3 linked regions of the Homo sapiens genome follow. The protein of the gene in region 3 purifies or fractionates together with the protein of the main gene of each other region. This does not show direct contact. Each region holds a gene or a part of one and is shown on either strand. Other genes may lie near its edges.

What was found.
Region 1: the proteins of STARD6 (region 3) and EEPD1 purify together in Homo sapiens (affinity purification with mass spectrometry; one large-scale study listed by BioGRID and IntAct). This does not show direct contact.
Region 2: the proteins of STARD6 (region 3) and GSTA4 purify together in Homo sapiens (affinity purification with mass spectrometry; one large-scale study listed by BioGRID and IntAct). This does not show direct contact.

What each region holds. Positions count from the first base shown.
Region 1 is NC_000007.14:36,159,612-36,163,268, reverse strand, and holds part of EEPD1 (endonuclease/exonuclease/phosphatase family domain-containing protein 1), read right to left. Parts: intron 1-3,657.
Region 2 is NC_000006.12:52,985,219-52,988,875, forward strand, and holds part of GSTA4 (glutathione S-transferase A4), read right to left. Parts: intron 2,191-3,657; coding exon 2,139-2,190; intron 366-2,138; coding exon 233-365; intron 1-232. UniProt on the Homo sapiens protein: Conjugation of reduced glutathione to a wide number of exogenous and endogenous hydrophobic electrophiles. This isozyme has a high catalytic efficiency with 4-hydroxyalkenals such as 4-hydroxynonenal (4-HNE).
Region 3 is NC_000018.10:54,323,977-54,327,000, reverse strand, and holds the end of STARD6 (stAR-related lipid transfer protein 6), read left to right. Parts: intron 1-2,125; coding exon 2,126-2,309; 3' UTR 2,310-2,509; downstream 2,510-3,024. UniProt on the Homo sapiens protein: May be involved in the intracellular transport of sterols or other lipids. May bind cholesterol or other sterols.

The sequences.
Region 1 (3,657 bases), on a different chromosome or scaffold from region 3:
AAAAAAAAACCTACCCATAAAACAACACAATAATCTGAAGCCACAGAGGCTGCCCACCAAGAAAGGAAGGAAGGAGCCCTGAGACCACTGGCAGTTAAGACCAAGGCCTAATGTCACCCAAATATTGGCTTTTTCCCATTCAAGAAACATAAACTGCTAAAAAAAAAATTAGACTGAATTTGCTTAACAGAAAATATACTCTAGAGAAGTGTTTTTTTTAAACAGGATATTGGATAGATATTTTTTAAAAAACAACAACCCACCTGAGACCTCCCACTTTTAGCATAAGCTGAAAAAGACAAAGTACTAGTTTTATTCTCCAGTTTTGGGGTGAGCAAACAAGACTTCAGATCCGTAGAACATCCAAAGCATGTGCAACCTTAAATGTGGCAATGGGAACAACGTACTGTCGCTTAAGCACTGCATTTCAGGAGTATACAGCAGCCTCTAGGTAAAACAATTTAAGGCCCAGCTTAACAGCTTAATCAGGTAACGGCTGAACCAAAATAGAATTCACAGGAAACAAGGGCTCGTTGGAAACAAACAACAAATCAATATTAGTTGGGGAATTGTAGTCAGTAAAGAAAATCCAGGTTTTTCTTTTTTTCTTTCTTTTCTTTTTTTTTAAGACAGGGTCTCGCTCTGTGCTCAGGCTGGAGTGCAGTGGCACAATCTCAGCTCACTGCAACCTCCACTTCCCAGGCTCAAGCTAACCTCCCACATCAGCCTCCTGAGTAGCTGGGACTATGGGTGTGCACCACCAACCTTGGGTAATTTTTGTATTTTTTGTAGAGATGGGATTTCACCATGTTGCCCAGGCTAGTCTCGAACTCCTGGGCTCAAGTGATCCACCCACCTTGGCCTCCCAAAGTTGGGATTACAGGTGTGAGCCACCGTGCCCAGCCAACCCAGGCTTTCTTTATTCAAGAGTCTGCAAGAAGGATTCCACACTTCCCTTTATAATGAAATGTTTACTCTGAGCACACCTCTCCAGGGTTCCCAGCCACTTGAGTTCAGCAATTTGGCTGCTGTCAATCAAGACATTACATAAGAACTTTGGCATGTGTACAACACTCATGAGAAGGAGGGTGAGGAAGCTGCTAAGATTCCTAAATATTTGATGAGGACTAACAGCCTGTCAGGTAGAGCAGGACATTTTTGTGGCATTTCCTGGATGTTATGATATGAGAAGTCATCAGTGTGAAATTCTACCCAGGTATAAATTACCACACACAAACCAGGATGTCCATGATGAGCAAATAGAATTTCAGTAAAATCTATCATTTTATTTGTTACTGACACTGATTGTTATTAGGGAATTCTGGGATAAAATCCTTTGTAAGGTAGAGTAATTTTTTTTTTTTTTTTTTTGAGAGAGACAGGGTCTCACTCTGTCACTGAGGCTGGAGAACAATGGCATGATCACAGTTCACCACAACCTTGAATTTCTGGGCCTTCTGAGTAGCTGGGACTACAGGCACGCACTACCCCACTCAGCTAATTTTTAAAGTTTCTGTAGCAATAGGGTCTTGCTATGTTTCCCAGGCTGGGGAAGGTCATTTTGAAATTAAAATGACACACACCTTCCTGCTTATAAGCTTGGCATTTGTATACCGGATTCTCTCACTGTGAGGAGCCTTGTGTGGGAGGCTGCCATGTTCCTGTCTGAGTATTTTGGATCATAAGCCTCAGTGGAGGGCCCGGACCTCCCCCTCCTCAGCCGTGTGTGTGCATGGGGGAGGGTGGATGCTGACTTTCAGCCTCAATTGTCACTATGCCACTACACTCCTTCCTCTCAGACTCCAACCACCCATCCACCTGACTTGGTCCTTTCCCTTCATCCCTGACCGAATGCTGAGGTCTCACATACCTGCAGAGCCAAGCAGACAGCGACCAAGTCCCTGTGCTCTCAGGTCTCTTAGCAAGCTTCACATCCTCCCTCATCCCACACATCATCCTGGAAATACCTGCTGAATGTGTATGTCCTTGAGACGGTGAGCCCCCGACCACAAAGTGGGGTCTTCCTGCGCCCATGCCTCTGACCTCATCAGGTAGTAAGCACAAAGTAGCTGCTCAATGTTGAACTGAATGTATGCGAACCTCTCCTGATAGAAATAGTCACCTAAAGTCCCCAGAGCAAGCCCTGGGTCCATTTGTCATTGATGCTGAAGAGAATATGTGGCCTTGTCAGATGCCCCATCTGCTGAGGGCAGACCATGGCCTCATACTCCATCTGCTATGGACCTAAGTAAGACCCCACACCCAGGACACAGCTGTGGCTGAGGGGAAGGGTAAGGTGAACACCTTGCATCATGTTAAAATAATACAGAGGCATGTGTGTCAGCCCCAGGATTTCTTATTATATATGCCTCTGCACCTATCTCATAGAAACCTCAGAGCATTTCAAACAAGCTACCTGCTGAATCTCACACTATCCACAATATAGGCAAGTCTTGCCAGTTTTTACCTCTAAAAGGCTTCTCATCTCTGCCCACTTCCCCATCTCCCCAGAGATCATTGCCTTTAGCTTGAATCCTGCAACAGCTTCTTCACTCAACTCCCAGGACCCTCTCCATGCACGCCCCGCCCCCCACCACCTCCCAGCAGTCAGACTATCTGGTAAGAGGTCATTTCTTCAGCCTCTGCTTCTAACCTTCTGTGGCCTCCTCCTGCTGTTACAAGAAGTCTTGAAGGCCCCACCTGATCTGGCCTGGCCTTGCTCTGCGGCCCCACCCACCCGCCACTCTAGAACTCTGGCCTTCTGTCTGGAGCCAGCACTCTCAGGGCCTCTGCACTTGCCAATTCCTCCATGGAGCATTCTTTTCCCTGGCTTCTTCCGTGCCTGGCTTCTTCTCATCCATCAGCTTTCAGCTGAGGCATTCTTTGACCCCCATCTAAATAGGCTTCTCTTCACCTCACCTCCATCACCCTCAGCATGCACCACTATCTGTAATGATTGATGTGTGTGTTGACCTGTTTGTCTTTCCTCCTAGAACAGAAGTTCCATGAGTGCAGGGACTTTGTCTTGTTCTCCACTTTATTACCAGAGCCTGATACAGAACCTGGTACCTAGTGAGAGCTCCAAACAGATCTGCTAACTGAATGAATGAATGGATGGATGGGTGAATGAGTGAGTAAGAAAGGAATGGATAGCCCCTGGGAAAATCAACACCATCAAACTCCCAAAGAACCTTGGAATCAGACCCAAAATGGGCCCAGCTTCCTTGTAAAACAAAAGTCACACCTTTCCCTTTAGTGAGATAAACCCTAAGTTCTGCCTACATTGGAAGTTCCCTGCATTCACACTGTCTTCTCTTACAAATCCACAACACTCTTACTACCGACCATCTTTCTATTTAGAAACACCTTAGAGTTCCTTGGCTCAGAAAACTGGAACTTGATCTTGGAGTCAGGCCCAAGGTCACAGACTCACACTTGAGGGGCTGGGTGGAGGAGCCCTGACGCCTTTTGGATTGGCTCTACCTCTGGCCTCAAGCCCCATCCTTTAGAGGAACAAAAACGGGAAAAAACAGAGGCCCCCAGAGGCCTGACACAATCTCAGGGTTGTAGGGAAGCCCTCCTTTTCCCCAAGACCCTGATACCTGGCCAGCCAAAGGCAGGGAGGAAATGTGGGTGGGCTGGGAGTCAGAGGCAGCA
Region 2 (3,657 bases), on a different chromosome or scaffold from region 3:
GAAACAATGACACCCTAGATATAATATTCAATATCTGAATCCTATTCTTTTGTTTTACTCAGACTCTCTCTACTGAAGTTCCAACTGGTCTTCGTGACCTTCTTGGGTTTTTGTTCCCTGATCTCACTAACTATGTAAGACATAAAGTAAATGTGGTGTGCTACAGAGGTTGCTAATCAGCTAAGGCATCAGTAAGCTGACAAGTGACAACACTCGAGAGGGGCCACAGTACAGGGTTCTCTCCTTGAGGTTCTTGCCAAAGAGATTGTGCTTGTCTGCTATGTAGTGGAGAATGCTTCGGGTCTGTACCAACTTCATCCCGTCAATTTCAACCATGGGCACTTGTTGGAACAGCAGGTGGTTACCTGAGAATGGAAGCCCAGAGTTAGAAGTGATCTTTTCTTCTCTGTCCCCCAACCCCTAAAAAATGCTCTGTGGAATGAAAAGAAACGGTGGAATCATGGCCTTAGGAAATAGTGTAAAGCTTCCAGATGACAGATAACCTTAACTTCATTCAGGAGAGCAGATTTAGCCACAAAAGAAGCCTGAAGGGGCCAGGCGTGGTGGCTCAAGCCTGTAATCCCAGCACTTTGGGAGGCCAAGGCAGGCGGATCATGAGGTCAGGAGTTCAAGACCAGCCTGGCCAACATAGTGAAACCCCGCCTCTACTAGATATACAAAAATTAGCCGGGTGTGGTAGCAGATGCCTGTTGTCCCAGCTACTTGGGAGGCTGAGACAGGAGAATTGCTTGAACCCGGGAGGCGGAGGTTGCAATGAGCCAAGATCGCGCCATTGCACGCCTGGGCAACAGAGCAAGACTCTACCTCGAAAAAAAAAAGAAGGCTGAAAACTAGCATTGTTATAAACGTTCCCTTTTCATTTTCACCCCAGGAAAAATACCTATCCACAGTGATAAGGGATTGAGGGGAATGTAGTGAAGATATTTCTTCAGTGCTACACTGGCCAATACAGCAGTCACCAGCTACACGCAGCTATGTAAATCTAAATTTAAATTAATTACAATTTTTAAAACTTAAAATTCAGTCCCTAAGTTGCACTAGACATATTTCATGTGCTCAACAGTCACATTTGCCTAGTGGCTACCATATTGGACAATGCAGAATAGAACGATTCCTTCACTGTAGAATGTTCTGCTGGACAGCACTGTTTTTAGAGAATCTGATCATGAAACCTAAGTAACTAGCTGAGACTCATGTATACTCTTTGGCTCATGTATACTCTATGGCTACTCTGTAGCCACAGAACAGACCGTTTACTACCAAGTTTGCTGTCACTAGTTAAAAAAACAACCCATTGTTTTATTTAACAAACCTGAATCCAACACTTTCCACATACCAAACCCTGGGGAGAGATGCCGGTATAGGGTACAGCTTGGCCTTGAGGGTTTGAGCATTCGGAGCAGGTGAGGGGAGAGGCAAGAGGAGTACTTAGCACATGCCTAGTGGCTTCCAGCCACCGTCACACACAAAAGGTGGCCTTACAGCCCTGGAGAGCCGGTACCACACAGGGGAGCCTCCAGCTGGGCCTGAGGACCCTGCTGTTGGCTGGGAGGGAGGCTGCTCACAGGGTTGATGGGCGCATTCTTTATGGGTCTGCTGGTGGCTCCTGCTATAATGGATGGGCAAGGAGGGAGCAGGGCTGACCAGGAATTAAAGGTGAAGGGAGGGGGCAGTTCGTTGATTTCACTTCTGTGTAGTATTTACTTCAGAAAGTACCCCATGTAAATGGGGATATTTATTTGCATACTTCAAGCAGGCCAGGATGCCTCAGATAGTGTGAAGGAAGTAGGGAAAGATGAGAAGGAGGGAAGGGGCAAGGGAGAGAAAGAAAGGGGGAGGAAGAGATTGGAGGGGAGAGGGGAGAAGAAAGGGATGGAGAGGAGCTGTTCACCGGGATGTGGAAGGAACTGCTCACCCCCTTCGGCCAGCTTTTATGGAACTATTGAATAAGAAGTGATTTCCTGGCAATTTCAACTATTTATTCCCTCTTGCTTTTTTTGGTTTTAGGATACTGTTCTGAATGTTCAGTGTCATTGAATACTTTTGCCCTTCCACATAAACAGCAGCTCTTAAAGGAAAATCAGTATTAGAGGCAGTTGTTTCATTTTCATACTCACCATCCTGCAACTTGTACAACTGTTCTTTTGTTTCCAGAAATTCTTCATCAAACTAAATTTTTAAAAAAGAAACGTATATATACATAGTGGAATATTATTCAGCCATTAAGAAAACAAAATCCTGTCATTTTCAGCAACACCAACAGAAACAGAGGTCATTACGTTAAGTGAAATAAGCCAGGCACAGAAAGACAAAGACTGCATGTTCTGATTCATATGTGGGAGCTAAAAAAGTGGATCTCATGGAAATAGAAAGTTGATTGGTGCTTACTAGAGGCTGGGAAGTGTAGAGAGGAATGGGATGTGAAAAGAGGTTGGTTAATGGTACATAAATACAGCTAGACAGAAGAAATAAAATCTAGTGTTCGATAGTACAGTAGGCTATAGTTAACAATAACGTATTACACAGTTCAAAATGGCTAGAAGAGAATTGGAATGTTCCGCCATAAAGGAAAGATAAATGTTTGAGGTGGGTGATGGATATCCTAATTACCCTGATTTGATCACTACACATGATACACATGTATCAAAATATCAAATGTATTCCCCAAATATGTACATTATGCATCAATTTTTTAAAAAGATATCCTCACCCTCCAAAAGGAGGTAAATATCATACAGGCTCAGGACAAAAAATGCCAAGTTAAACAGTCTTAAGAAGCAGAGAGAAAGAGCAGACTTAGCATCCACATCTTGGTTTCTAAATATCACTGCCCCCTAAAAGGAACTAGGGGTCCTATAAGAGAAGGTTGATTTTGTTATGCCAGAAAGCAAGGAAGTGCTCAAATGTGAAAGAGAAAGGCATGGAGGGCCCTGTAAGGGGAATCCCTACCAAATCTGGGAAAATTTAAGCATCAAAAAGAATGATGTCAATTATGGATTATAACACCCAACAATAAAATCTCTATGTCCATAAATGATGATGCTAAAAAAAAAAAAAGGTAGGAGGAAGGAAAAGCTCTTTTTTACAGAAGACTTAATTAAGTTACTTAATTATGATAAAGGGAAAGTGTCGATTTATAATGGAGAGATCGGGAGATCTCTCACCCTCTGTCTAACCAAACAATCAAACTTGGCTCCCCAGTGGAGAACACTCTGACATCCTGAGGCTTCTGTTGTTAACAAAGTGAGAAGGGCACAGTCACACCTGCTAAAACAACACCAAAAATATTTACCCTGAATCTACACACAAGGTGAAAATCAGGTATATTCAGGATGTGGGACCTTACGAACATAATGGCCTGGACTTCTCAAGAGTCGAAGGCATGAAAAAAAAGTCAGGTCCTGTTGATGAAAATCAACTAGAGACTTAACAACCAAATTGGAAGTAGATTTCAGAGGAGAGGAAACTGTTATAACTGCTAAACAGACGTGTAACCATTATATAGACATTTGGGGGAAAACGGAAAATTTGAATATGGATTGCATATTAGATGTTGTGAAGGCAGTGTTAATTTTCTTGGTGGTGACAATGGTATTGTGGTTATTAGGACAATTATTTATTTTGCCTTGGTGTCAG
Region 3 (3,024 bases):
AGCAAAGCTCAGTTTCAAATCAAGGCAGACTAGTTCCTGAGTCCACGCTTTTAACCATTACACTCATTTCATTTAACTGTGGGTGTATATTACTGAAAAATAAGACAGCATTCAATATCAAGTCTACTACTGCTTTCATTTTAAGAAAATCAAAGAAAATTTATTAACATAAATGTGTTGAAATGGAGAGAGTATAATTCCAGCACTGTCATTCAATTAATTTTTGATTTAATAATAAATAAAAATAAAATTTGAGAATTATATAAAAATATTTTTTATTTTATTTTTATATAAAAAATTTATGAATTATATACCATAAATTATGTAGTAACCTATCATCAAAAAATGTTTATCATTAAAAAAAGACCTGGCCAAGCACAGTGGCTCACACCTGTAATCCCAGCACTTTGGGAGGCTGAGGCGGGTGGATCACCTGAGGTCAGGAGTTCGAGATCAGCCTGGCCAACATGGTGAAACCCCATCTCTACCAAAAATACAAAAATTAGCCAGGCATGGTGGCACAGGCCTGTAGTCCCAGCTACTCGGGAGGCTGAAGCAGGAGAATCGTTTGAACCCGGGAGGCGGGGCTTGCAGTGATCCCAGATCACTCCACGGCACTCCAGCCTGGGTGACAGAGTGAGACCCCGTCTCAAAAGAAAAAAAAAAAAAAAAAAGACCTGTCAGCTGACAACTCAATTAGATCCTTAAGTTTTACTGAAAAAAAAAAATGGCATGACTTGGAAAAGAATTTTTTCTCAACTAGCCACTAATCAGATTTTCCCTTTAGCATCTCAAAGATTTTTATATACCAAGGTAAAGCACCATAGTACCACTTAGTGTGGATAACAGGTATGCCTTTGTTGCATAAAGCAAGAGAAGGGCGATTTTGAACAGGCTGATAGGAAAGAAAAAGCCCACATCTCCAACAGAGACATATTTACAGATCTGATTACGGAAAAAATGCATATGGAAGTTAGAGATTGGAAAATTTATTCTCTTAAAAGTATTCACCCTTTCTGACCCCAGTGTGAAGATCAATGGGCTAGAATATAAAATACCACTTAGAGTGCAGTTTGGAATTAATGTGTCAAAAACCTTAATGCACAAACCTTTGACCTAGAAATTATAAGTATTTATAAAAGTGTAAATGGGGCTGGGTGAGGTGGGTCACACCTGTAATCCCAGCATTTTGGGAGGCCGAAGTGGGAGGATCGCTTGAGGCAAGGAGCTTGAGACTGGCCTTGGCAACATAATGAGACCCTGTCTCTTTAAAAAAATTTTAAAATCTAGCCAGGCATGATTGGGCACACCTGTAATCGCAGCCACTCAGAAGACTGAGGCTGGAGAATCGCTTAAATTCAGGAGTTCGAGGCTGCAGTGAACTAGAATCACGTCACTGCACTCCAGCCTGGGCAACAGAGTAAGACCCTGTCTCAAAAAAAAAAAGCATAAATGGATACATTACAAAGATATTTTATTGCAGCTTTACTTACAGTAGCCAAAAGTGAGAAACAACCTAAATGATAGTCAATAAAAGGACTGTTAAATAGAAAATGAAATACTGTCTGTAGCCATGAAAAACAGTTAAGTAGATTGTATGTACAGACACAGAAGGAAGTTCATAGTGTCCTATTAAGATAAAAATAAAACTAGTTGCAGAAAAATATCTCCATTAAAAAATAAAACTATATTTATATATGTGGGGAACATATTCATTTATGTACAAATGTATGCTGTTTTTGTGTATATATATAGAGAGAGAGAAAGATAGTCACGCGAAAATATAACAATTAAAACTGTAAACAGTGATTATCTCTGGGAAACAGGATAAGGGAAATGAGGGAGGGAAAATTTTCTTTAATTATGAAAAATTTATATTGTTTAAATTTTCATAATAAGCATACATTACTGTTAGAATTTTTTAAAGTCAATAAAATGACAAAAAGGAAATGGTGCCTAAAACTCAAGATTTTAAGAAATATTCTAGCCACTTAATATTTTTAAGTACAATTTTTAAGTATGTCAACGGTGAATAAGATAAGAATCCTGCTCTCCAAAAACCTGTAAAGTCAGTAGTTAAATCTAAAAATTTCTTATCTTTTTTTAACTCTTCTTTTGCTTACAGAAACCCAGCATATTCCAAACTAGTGATGTTTGTCCAGACAGAAATGAGAGGAAAATTGTCCCCATCAATAATTGAAAAAACCATGCCTTCCAACTTAGTAAACTTCATCCTCAATGCAAAAGATGGAATAAAGGCACACAGAACTCCATCAAGACGTGGATTTCATCATAATAGTCATTCATGATACCAAAAGAAGAAATGAGGCCGTTCTGCTATAAAATCATGTGTAGTAGTTATTGCTGTTTACTTCTAAGTCAACGCACATAAATAATACTGTTAAACTATTCTAGACAGTATTCTTGTACACATGGCTGAAGATAGTTCATAAAAATAAGAACTCATAGTTGTACAAGAATATGGCATTAAATACCGTTTTTAATCTCACGTAAGAATGATGTTAAATAAGTGTTATTAGTATATTTTTATCTTTTGCTTTTGTCCCTGTAAAATCCTCTGTATAAGGACCAATAAGAAAGCAGATACAGTCAGAGGTCAGCATTAACTAAAAGTTAAAATACATTTTAAATTGTTTTTCTTTCACTTACTGCTTAAACTGACAATTGTAGGAAACATGAACATAAAAATTGAAAAGAATTCCACTAAAATGTATGACCAATGACATTTAGAATTTTAAATGCAATGAGTCATCAAACAATTTCTGGTGTGGCCAAGATGCAATAGCCCATTCCTCCCAAGTCTTTCCTCTTAAAACTTAAAGACCCTGCACATAACACAATAAACAAGCATAGGAAAACTCAAGCATAGGTGGAAAGAATGCAGCAAGCTATCTATGGACGTCGGGACTTAAGGAATGACATTCAGTGAGTTCTCTGGGTTTCCTTATTGCCTCCCACATATCCCAGGTGGGAAAGAAACACACACACATGCACACACACACA